Regions from separate parts of the Homo sapiens genome. Here region 1 is linked to region 2. The links come from fine-mapping of genetic effects on gene expression. A gene starts in region 2. The other region holds a variant in brackets. All regions are shown on one strand. Distances are between the middles of the regions. Region 1 overlaps FCRL5 (Fc receptor like 5). Region 2 holds the start of FCRL3 (Fc receptor like 3).

Region 1 (5,179 bases), 160 kb before region 2:
TGTTCCCACTCATCCTCAGGTCTCAACTCACACATGAGTTCTTCCAAGAAATTTTTTCTCACTTCCCAACTCAGATTGGCATGCCTTTCCATCTGCTCCTGCAGCCACCAGGTGCTTCTATCCTCAGGTTGATGTTTAATCTCTTACTTGACTGCATTTGCTATTAGCCCCTACGAACTGTGTGGGGAAGGCCAGGTTAGTGTAGTCGTAGATGCATCTTTAGATGTCAGTACAGTCTGGTCCATGGAATATATGCAATCAGCATTTATTAGGTGAAGAAGTGAGTCATTGAATAGGACTTTAAACATCTCTGAGCATGTTTGATCATGATGTCACTGTCTCCACTTTCTTTGGGCCACTGAATGTCAGGGACACTGTTCTCTTTCTACGTCATTTGATGTCTCCCGCTGGGTTCCCTGGTCCTCTCCTTTATAATCTCACACATCCATGTGGGAGGGACTGGATTCTTGCTTGTCTTCCAAGCTGGTATTATTGTTTTACAGGAAAGGAAACTGATGCCGCTTCCAGGACCAACCAAGACTGGACTCTCTGTCACCAGTATAGACCCAAATCACACTGTCTCCTTCAACATTGGACCTGGCATTCAGCCATGCATGGATGGTTCGAAACTGAGATCCAAAGCTCAAAGGAAACCTTTTTGATGTCATAACTATTTGGCAGCTACCTGAATAGCTCTGAGGGCATTAAGCCAAGCAAGTAGAGGTGAAGCTATCTCCTGGCCTGCCCCCAGCCCACCATTGCCCGTGCCTTTCTTACCTACTGCCCATCAACTCTAAAAAAGGCTTGAGCAAGAAGGACATGCTGGGTTAACTATGATCCAGCGACTTGTCTTTGTGTCTTACATGTCTTTGCCTTTGGTTTATTGATTAATGTCTGATATTAACAGAACAGGAGATACCTCTGTGCTCCTGGAAATTGAGTCTGTGTCTACTGAGAATAATATAGTGAATGAAAATCAGTCATCTGGGGAGCCACAGGACAAGTGGAAAGCACAAGAAAAGCACTTGGCTTCTCAGAAATTGGGAACCAGGGGATAGAAAGCCACTGCACCATCAGGCAGGGGTATAAGGGCACCTAGACTGCAATGCAACGAGACTCAAGAGGCAGACAGCTGGTTCAGTGAGCCGGAGAGTGGAGGAGGACATTAGGTTTTCCCAAGAAAGAAACTGAGGATACTGGAAGGTATATGCTGACTTCCGAAGGGCAGGGTGAGGCAGGACTCTTGGCCAGGGGTGGGTGATTGGCAGGAATGCAGGGCTTACCAGTGACTGAGAGGCTCACAGCCTTACTGGGCTTGGCGCCAAGGCCATTGTCAGCTGTGCAGTAGTAGTTCCCTGAATTCTCTGTAGTCAGTGAGAAGCTGATGGATGCTCCCCTTTCACAGCGGACTGACTTGTGCCTCAGGGGGACACCCTCATGATAAAACCTGTACAAAGTGCGCAGAGAATCTTCCTGGGTTTCACAGTGAAGTGTCACCTTGGTTCCCTCAAAATTCAGAGCCTTTTCAGGGCTGAGAGTGAGGACAGGATGAGATGCAGGGACTGAGCAAGAGAAAAAATTAGTCAAGAATTGCTTTTGCCTCTTACTGTAGATTACAAGGCATGGCCAGTGCAAATGCCCAGTCTCCAGTCTCCACCCTTAACTTGCTGCCATCAGAACCACACACCCTTACCTGCACCTGCTTCTTGCTCCTTCCTTCTGCCCTATGACTATGGAATGTTGCACCTGAAGTGCCCAATTATTCTGAGTCTTCTTTCCTATCCCTGTTTATTTCTCCTTCACTTGCATTGGCCTCAGGGATTTATTTGCCATTGCTAGTTTTTCCTTAAAGATTAGCATAGTCTTCTAGAGCTTTTTCTTCTGCTCCTACTCTCTCCCTTGGCCCAGACTGACCTTCTTTATTTACAGGTGAGAAAACTGAGTCAAGGAGAGACTAGGAGACCTGCCTGTGTAGGCTGTTTTCAGGGCCAGCCAGGGCCAGAGTTGGTGTCCTGACTCCTAGTCTGGTGATGATCACATTGCCTCCTTATAAGTGAGCCCGGAGTTTGCCATGAGTGGAGGGATGACACAGGGCTCTACAGAAGCTGTTTTTCCCTCATCACTGTAACTACCATAATAGCTTTGAAGGAAGGATGGTGCTGTATACTAGTAAGGGAGGTGATGTAATCTGGGGTGCATATTTGTACTCATAACTAGGGAATGGTAAACCTCCAGAGTCACATATTTGGAGTAACTATAATGTTGCAACCTGTCTTTGTATCCTACAGAAATTTTCACTTTGGTTATTGTCAATAAGTAATGTTAATTGGGACAACAGATACCTCTGTACACCAGAGTCAGAGAGCTATGCCACAGCCCATGGCTTATCCCTATGGGCCTAGAA[GA/G]AAAAAAAATGATGTCAGGGAAGAGAACCCTGCGAGAGAAAAGAAAGAATTGTATTTAATGGCATTGAAAGAAAAAAAATTAGACCTTTCTTTTCTTGGATTTTCCTGGGTCTAAGCTCTTCTAAGATGTTCACAAGAGTAGAGGTCTCTTTGCTTGCACAACTCCCATTCTCACAGGTACGAGTTTTTTCTACAGAGACTGGTGACCCACGCTGATATGCAGCCCTGTCCCACTTTTCCAGCCCTCTCTGCAGCAAATCTCAGGTTCCACCAACACTTACTCTGCACCTGTATCCAGGATCTCGGGCTGTCAGATATGACGCTGTAAGGCATTGTTGCTGCCTTACACCAGTAGAACCCTGAATCTTTACTCCACATGGCAGTAATCTGGAAATTCGGGGAGAGACTCCAGCCTAATCCCAGGGTCTGGTCATCTCTGAAGAAGCGGAACCGGAGCGGGACATCTGACCTCTCTAGAGAGAGCTGGGTCTCACAGGTCAGGGTCACTGGGTTCCCGCTGATGGGCTGGAAGGAGCTGGCTCTCAGCACTGGACGTGTAAATGGCTCTAGAGAGAAGAATCACAACAGTCCCAGAGCAATGAGGCTGGAACTGCTTTGGAGAAAAGCACACTTCAAGCAGCAGCACATCCAAAAGCAGGCAAAGAAAGGAATGCCATTGATCCCTAGCTTCCTTCAGCCCAAAACACTACTATACTTCCTCTGCTCCTTGCAGGAATGTGTCCTGTGGTTTAGTGGTATTCCAGTCCACCCTTTTCCTCCTGTTCTATCTCTATGACCCCAAGGAATCTCCTTTTGACCAACTCACTTCACAAAATAATGAAGGCTTTACCTTGGACTTGGATTTTGACTGTATTGGAAGAAACAGGGCAACAACTTTCCTTATATCCAGTACAGCGATATGCACCATTGTCCTTGAGACATGCATGAGGAATATGGAAGTCAGTTCTTTTATTAAGGAATGCCAGGACATTATCATTCTTGTAAATAGTATTATTCAGTGTTACTTCCGCCTTTGCCCGGCACCTCAGAACCACAGAGTCTCCTTCAAACACAGAAAGTGGAGCTTGCAGGATCAGCGAAGCTATGAGAAACACAATAGAGTTATTTGGTTCATCCTACTGTTTCCCCTTTCTTTTCATTGTTTTTCCAAGTAGATTTTATTTTAAAAAAATGGGTTGGGAAAAAGAACTCTTAAAATAATTATCATTTCTTTTTTTCTGATTTAAAAATGAACACATACACCTTAAGAAAAGTTGAAAAGCAGAAATGTAGGTAAAATCACCTACCATCTCACCACCCATGTTTTGGCATATGTTTTTCCAGTTTTCTCTTCCACTTTCAAGTACTTGGAGCTCATGCGTATTTCTTTTATGGAATAATATTAATATTTGTAGATTTGATAACTTTCCTTTCACTTACTATGCTATGAACACTTTCCTACATCATTAGTATCATTATTGAACCTGATTTTTAATGTTTGCGGTTTTCCTTCACTGGCAGTAATGTAATTTCTTTAATGAGTTTTTTTTTTTTTTTTTTTTTTTTGAGACGGAGTCTCACTCTTTCACCCAGGCAGGACTGCAGTGGTGCTATCTCGGCTCACTGCAAGCTCCATCTCCCGGGTTCATGCCATTCTCCTGCCTCAGCCTCCCGAGTAGCTGGGACTACAGGCACCCGCCACCAAGCCCGGCTAATTTTTTGTATTTTTAGTAGAGACGGGGTTTCATAGTGTTAGCCAGGATGGTCTCAATCTCCTGACCTCGTGATCCACCCGCCTTGGCCTTCCAAAGTGCTGGGATTACAGGCGTAAGCCACCGCGCCTGGCCAGGTATTCTTTTTCTAAACCATGTTAAGGTCTGCCATTTTCAGGGATGGACATCTGTGATTGTTTCAGTAGGCAAATTCTTAAGAGACGGATTGTTAAGTCAAAGAGTATAAACATTTTTGTTTATTCCTTGCTAGTACACTGCTTCCACTACATTAAAAAATGATGTAACTTCAACTTCAAAACAGGTGGCTTTAGGACAAGGAAGGAAATGTCTCTTCCTTTATCTTTCTTTCTCTGTATATTTATCTACCTATGCATTATCTACCCATAAGTATGAACAATTCTCCTGCCACTTATTATTCCAAGTAAATAATGTGACTTAAAACTATACATAGAGGCCGGGTGCAGTGGCTCATACCTGTAATCCCAGCGCTTTGAGAGGCCTAGGTGAGCAGATCACTTGAGCCCAGGAGTTCAACATTAGCCTGGGCAGCATGAGGAAATCCCATCTCTGCTAAGAATACAAAAATTAGCCAGGTGTGATGGCGGGCTCTTGTAGTCCTACTTACTAGGGATACCGAGGTGGGAGAATTGCTTGAACCCGGGAGACAGAAGTTGCAGTGAGCCGAGATAACGCCACTGCACTCCAGCCTGGGTGACAGAGCGAGACTCCATCTCAAAAAACCAAACCAAACCAAACCAAACCAAACCAAACCAAACCAAACCAAACCAAAAAGCTATACATAGATTCAGGAACCACTCAAATAAATTAATCCTCAGACTTTCTGGTACCGGAGAGGCTTGTAAAAAATATAAATTGCTGGACCCCACTTCTACAGGTTTCTATTGAATAAGCATAGGTAGGTCCTGAGTATCTGTATGGTTGATAAGCTGCCCAGGCTTTCTGACTCAAATCAAACTTTAAGAACCACAGGTTTAGAGACATTAATCCACTCAAGTAAAAATTCTATTTATTTTAATGTTT
Region 2 (5,531 bases):
AACTTCTCATCGTGATACCAATATGTGTCTCCCTGGGCTAGGGAATGTGATATGCTGCTGCATATGAGAGCCACTTTTTCTCCTTTGAAGGCTGTGGACCATGGAGGATTGAGGAGAAGTACAGCTTTTGGGGCCACCCCTAAACAGGAAATAGAAAGATGAAGGCAGGGGAAGGTCAATGGGAGGTGGGCACAGCACATGGGGAGCCCAACCTACAGTCAGGAGTTTTCCTGGACTAATTTCCAGTCAGGACCAGGGTGGAAAATTGAGCAGAAATAACCTAGGGAAATGCCTGGGAAAGAATCTGTTCTTCCTCATCCATTTCCTGGAGGTGGGCAGAAGGGTATTATAGGGGAGAGGTCTCAGTTTCCTGGCATAGCCTCAGAAAAGCTCAGGAGATGTGATTTGCCATTGGGCAAAAACTGCGAAGGCCTCAGAATGTGGCTGATCCTGAAATTCTCTTGTCCTATACATTTCTGTCCAGATAAAGGTGAACCTGGGATGTATATACCTCAGAAGTAGTTTCTAGACTCCAGAAAATTACTTCCTACTTGTTAACACTTAAAATGAATAAGATTTTCTCACTTGTATTACTTTTATATCTCTCTTAGCTTTGAAAGTCTATGGGGAAGGCAACTTTACTCTCCATTTAAGTTGGACACAGTAAACAATGGAGGGATATAAAGAATTTAAATGGAGGAGGATGGGTTGCCTGAGAAGTCAGACTTGTGTATGGAATTGCAACTGACTGACAGGCATGGAAGTGAGGTGTGGCAGTGGCATGAGCTCTTTTTGGAGATTTATAAGGATTCTGCTGTAGCATCTTCCTCCGTGGATGGGATCTATTTCTATGTCCTTTGATAGCAGCACTAGCTTGGACATTCAGAGGGAGATGTACTAGAGAATATGGAGATCACATATGAGATTCCTTCATCATCAGCCTCTTGCCTCTGTCCTTTGCTCTGCAAGTGTTTCCTTCCTGTAGTCTGAGGAATACCGGTAATGTAGGGAGAAAAAAAAAAAAAAACCTAGAGACTGAAAAAGTCGGAGGAGGCTCTGTTCACCCAATATAGTAGCAGATGTGACCCCAGAGCATTAGCATTGCTGATGGGATGCGTGCCTGCAAGGGTTAGGGCAGGCTGTGTGGGCTGAGGGGACCAATATCCAGAGACCAGAGGGGCAGAGAGAAGGAGAAACTTACCTGATTGTTCTCTTCCAGGAGCTGTGAGGGAGCAGAAAATGACAATCAGACACTCTCCGAAACATTTTCTAACAACCTAACCACAACCACTTCTTTTGTTTTTCCTTATCATTTCTTTGCTCCCTTTTTATATCATCCAGAGCCCCTAAACAACAAAGAAAATGTCATATAATGTATTTTACAAACGTGATGGCTTATGTCCAAGGCCTGACCTCATCTCTGCTATTATTTACTTGGCCACGGCACACTTTATTCTCTCCTTCTCTTCTCTGAGTGCAGAGGCAGACAAGGACTTACAGAAATGGTTTATCCTCCTTTCGTTCCTTGGGCTCCTATTGTTCCCCTCACTTTTTCAATCTCTGATTAAATTTTGGCTTAAAACTTCTAGAAAACAGTGATGTTTCTCAGTAAACCTTCCTTCACGTGCCTAGGTTTTTAGAAGTAACTGCTCATCTGAAAAATTATTTAGTCTGAGGCTTAAGAGGGAGGGTGGGATATAGAGTTGTGGTTTGGCAGAAGGAAAAATCCAAGTTTCCTATGAGGTGAGAAAAGCAGTGGGTGAGAAACCAAGGTCAGGATATCTGGCTTGCTCTGATGGTTGCATTTGGAGCCTCTTGGTTGTCCAGGGAACCCAGCTCTGCTCACTTCCCATCCCTTGCTATCTGTCTCTGAACCCCAAGTAGAAGCAGAGATAGAAGCTCCTTGAGTTTTTCCCTGGTCACCTTTAGGAACTGAGGCCGTGGCCCCATTATAGCCCATCTACTCACTCAGGATCAGCAGCAGCAGCCACAGAAGCATGGGCACCGGCCGGGCAGAGGGTTGGGAAAGTCTGTCTCACCAAAAGCCCGACTTATCTCCAAGAAGGAGGGCAGGAAGCTGCTACTCAGATGAGACCTGCAAGAATCAGAAAAGGGAAGAAGAGCTTAGTGTCATATTTTGCTTTGGGCTCTGAAAATGTGAATGTGGCTACCTTCCTAAATGCTGTTTGTATCTCAATCCCGGTAGTGATACATTTTTAGAAGTTGGGGCTCATCTTCCATCAGCTGCAGTCTCTCAGGAGTAATGTCTCCAAGACTGTGCCTGGGTTCTCTAGAAATATCAAGTTGTGTATTTGCTAGTATTCAAATAATTCTTTCTGTATTTTTCATATGGGAAACCCCTTCACTACCTTGTCTTCACACAGCCTTTGGTTCTGCATGCAGCTCCTAATGTAGGCAAGCTTAATGAGCGTGGTGTGAATCACACAGTCAAGGTGTCAAGCATATGCCTTTTTGACTTTCACATAAGTTGTTATGAGGCTTCTGAACAGGAAAATAATACAAATGTACAGATCAAGGACTTCCCGTAATCTCACCCAGATCTGCAAATTAGGAGATAAATCAGCAAGCGTACCACCGTTTTTAAAGCCAAAGCCCTTCTCAGAAAGGGCTTTGCAATCAAAGAGGTTCCACCCCATTATTTTGTTTCAGGTCCTTTGTGTTTTTTTCACAGTGTTTATAACAATTTGCAATTATTTTCTCTATTTCCTTGTTTGCTTTCGTGTCTTCTTTCCCACTAACATTTAAGGGCCCCTTTTCTTACCCCTTATATCCCCCGCACCTCTAACTGTTCTTTCTTGAAAGCATTCCTTTAGTAAGTATTATTTGAGGGACTATTGAATAAAAACTCTGAACCAGTGTTTCTCAACCATTTTTTCGTTATTGCTCCCCTAAGGATCTTTTTTAGACAATTTTGTTTTTAGCCACCCCCTTTTTCCATGAAAATTTAATACCACAAATATACTATGTATGTGTTTATGTGCTGCATGTATAGCTGTGTTTGATACATTAAAAAATTAGTTTTTTTCATCTTCCCAAGAGTCAATTCTTGCCCCTTTGAAGGTGATATAACTTCTGTTAGGAAGGCGTGTTTTAGACTTAGAGGTAAGCCATTCTTGGGAATCTACCTACCAGGATAAAGTTGTCATCATTCAGATACCTTTACATTAGAAATGGGAGATGATCTCAGATCAAATGTCCCATCCTCAGGGTGCCCAACCTTGGCAGGTAATGGAAAGAGGGTCCTCTTTTTTAACAAATATTATTATGTTCTTTCTCCCATGGAAGTCACCAAATTTTATCATTCTCTATATGTTTATGTGATTGTATAATGCCTATTTTTCTCATTAGATAGTATTACAAGGTTTGGGAACAAGCCTGGTTTGTTCTTCATTTTGTTTCAATGCCTAACAGAGCACTTGTCACATACCAATTTGTCAATAAGGACTTGCCAAATGAACGACCAACAAACAGTAAGGAACAGGATGACAATAGAAGAGGATTGGATGTGTTTCAATGTGTGCTTAGTCATTCCTGGTTAGAGATTTCTCCAATATTCTGGAGAAGATATATTGGTTATATCAATTTATTTAAATTAAATTAAATTATTTATTTAAACTATACCCAGTTAATCCACACTACAGGGTCTTTGTAAACTTGTAATTGTAGAGTATGGTGCCACATCTACTGAGAGGTATTCTCTGACCTCCCACATTTGGGCTGGGTGTTCCTCTCATGTGCATCAATAACACTTGGATTTCCTTCACTCCAGAACCGATCACAGTGAACTGAAACATCCTGTCCCTTTGATGGTATTCCTCAATGATCTAAGTATCTTTAGGGAAGGGAGCGGTTAGGGCTTATTTTTTATTTCTCTGAGGACAGCATGCTCATCAACAAAAGGAAGGTTCAGTGGGATATGGATAGCTTCGAGATTCAGTGTGTCATTTCAGACTAATTCAAAATATGAATAAACCTCAAATATACTTCATGCTCAAAGGTGACGATGTTGTTGATGACTCTGAAGTATTGTTTCCTGTGGTTGGAAAGATATGCTCAGAAAAGAGTATTTTGAATTTAATTGCTCATCTGTAGCCAAAAATGTTACATTTTTCTACGTCTCTCTCTGAAGACAGGAACTATGTCATATTCACATTATTCTAGCACCTAGCACAGTGCCTAACACTCAGTAGAGGATTGCCAGATAAAATGCAAGGGTCTCATTTAAATTTGTATTTCAAATAAAAAACAAATAATTTTTACTATAATTATGTTCCATACAATACTTGGGATATGTATGAGTTCGTTTTCATGCTGCTGATAAAGACGTAACAAGACTGGGCAATTTACAAAATAAAGAGGTTTATTGGACTTACAGTTCCACATGGCTGGGGAGGCCTCACAATCATGGCAGAAGGCAAGGAGGAGCAAGTCACATCTTACATGAATGGCAGCAGGCAAAGAGAGAATGAGAGCCAAGCGAAATGGGTTTCCCCTTATCAAACCATCAGATCTCGTGAGATTTACTCACTACCAGAAGAACAGTATGGAGAAAACTGTCCCCAGGATTCAATTATTTCTCACTGGGTCCCTCCCACAACACATGGGAGTTATGGGAGTACAGTTCAAGATGAGATTTGGGTGGAGACATGGAGCCATATCAGGATATAATTGCATTTAAAAAGTAGTCACTGTTTATCTGAAATACAAATGTAACTAGGAGTCCCATATTTTTATTTGCTAAATACGCCAAATCTAATTGAACAGAATAACTTTTCATTTGCCTGAATATATTAATGAATGGTTGTGTTGGGGGGACATCTATTTTCTTCCATGTGCATGCAACTCCTACTCCTGTTCCTCCTTCTGCTCCTTAACTCACTCCATCCTGGAAGAAGTGACGTGCCTTATGTGATCAGTAAATTTGGGAAGAATAATTGAGTCATGATAAACTTATTATTATTATTACTATAATTTTTTGAGAAAGAGTCTCACTTTGTTGCCCAGGCTGGAGTGCAGTGGCACAATCTCGGCTCACTGCAAACTCTGCATCCTGGATTCAAGCGATTCTGGTGCCTCAGCCTCCCGAGTAGCTGGGACTATAGGCACGTGCCACCACGCCCAGCTAATTTTTGTATTCTTAGTAGATACTGGGTTTCACCATGCTGGCCAGGATGGTCTCGATCTCCTGACCTCATGATCCACCCACTCGGCCTCCCAAAGTGCAGGGATTACAGGCATGAGCCACCGCACCTGGCCCCATGCTAAACTTAACTCCATGCTCTTCCCCCTGGATGCAACTCTACTGGCAGAAGGGTTTATGAACAAGTATACGCCTTCCCCTGTGTGGAGATTTAAGTGGGGAGGGAGTGAGGGAGTCTAAAGTTCCAGAGCAAATTTTCAGAGACACAAACAATTGGGGCATGGGTTTAGATGTAAAAGAACTAAAAACAAAAGAACAAATGTATGAGAGCTATATATTTACAAGGAGAGGCTTTTGGTGGGAAGAGATC

Evidence for each region. PIP is the estimated chance that this variant, and not a neighbour inherited with it, causes the effect. A credible set is the group of variants that fine-mapping cannot tell apart.
Region 1: its variant is the best candidate, but not a certain one, in a credible set for the expression of FCRL3 in whole blood (TOPMed, PIP 0.52).

The regions. Positions count from the first base shown.
Region 1 is chr1:157,541,576-157,546,754 of GRCh38, forward strand. It overlaps FCRL5 (Fc receptor like 5), which reads right to left. Exons shown (of 17, transcript NM_031281.3): 4 at 3,256-3,507; 5 at 2,687-2,971; 6 at 1,284-1,562. Among named protein-coding and RNA genes, the nearest start is that of FCRL5, 8.4 kb to the right of the region's middle. The variant GA/G (reference allele first, on the strand shown) is at 2,405.
Region 2 is chr1:157,698,491-157,704,021 of GRCh38, forward strand. It overlaps FCRL3 (Fc receptor like 3), which reads right to left and starts at 2,279. Exons shown (of 15, transcript NM_052939.4): 1 at 2,172-2,279; 2 at 1,969-2,095; 3 at 1,202-1,222; 4 at 1-139. The coding sequence starts at 1,999.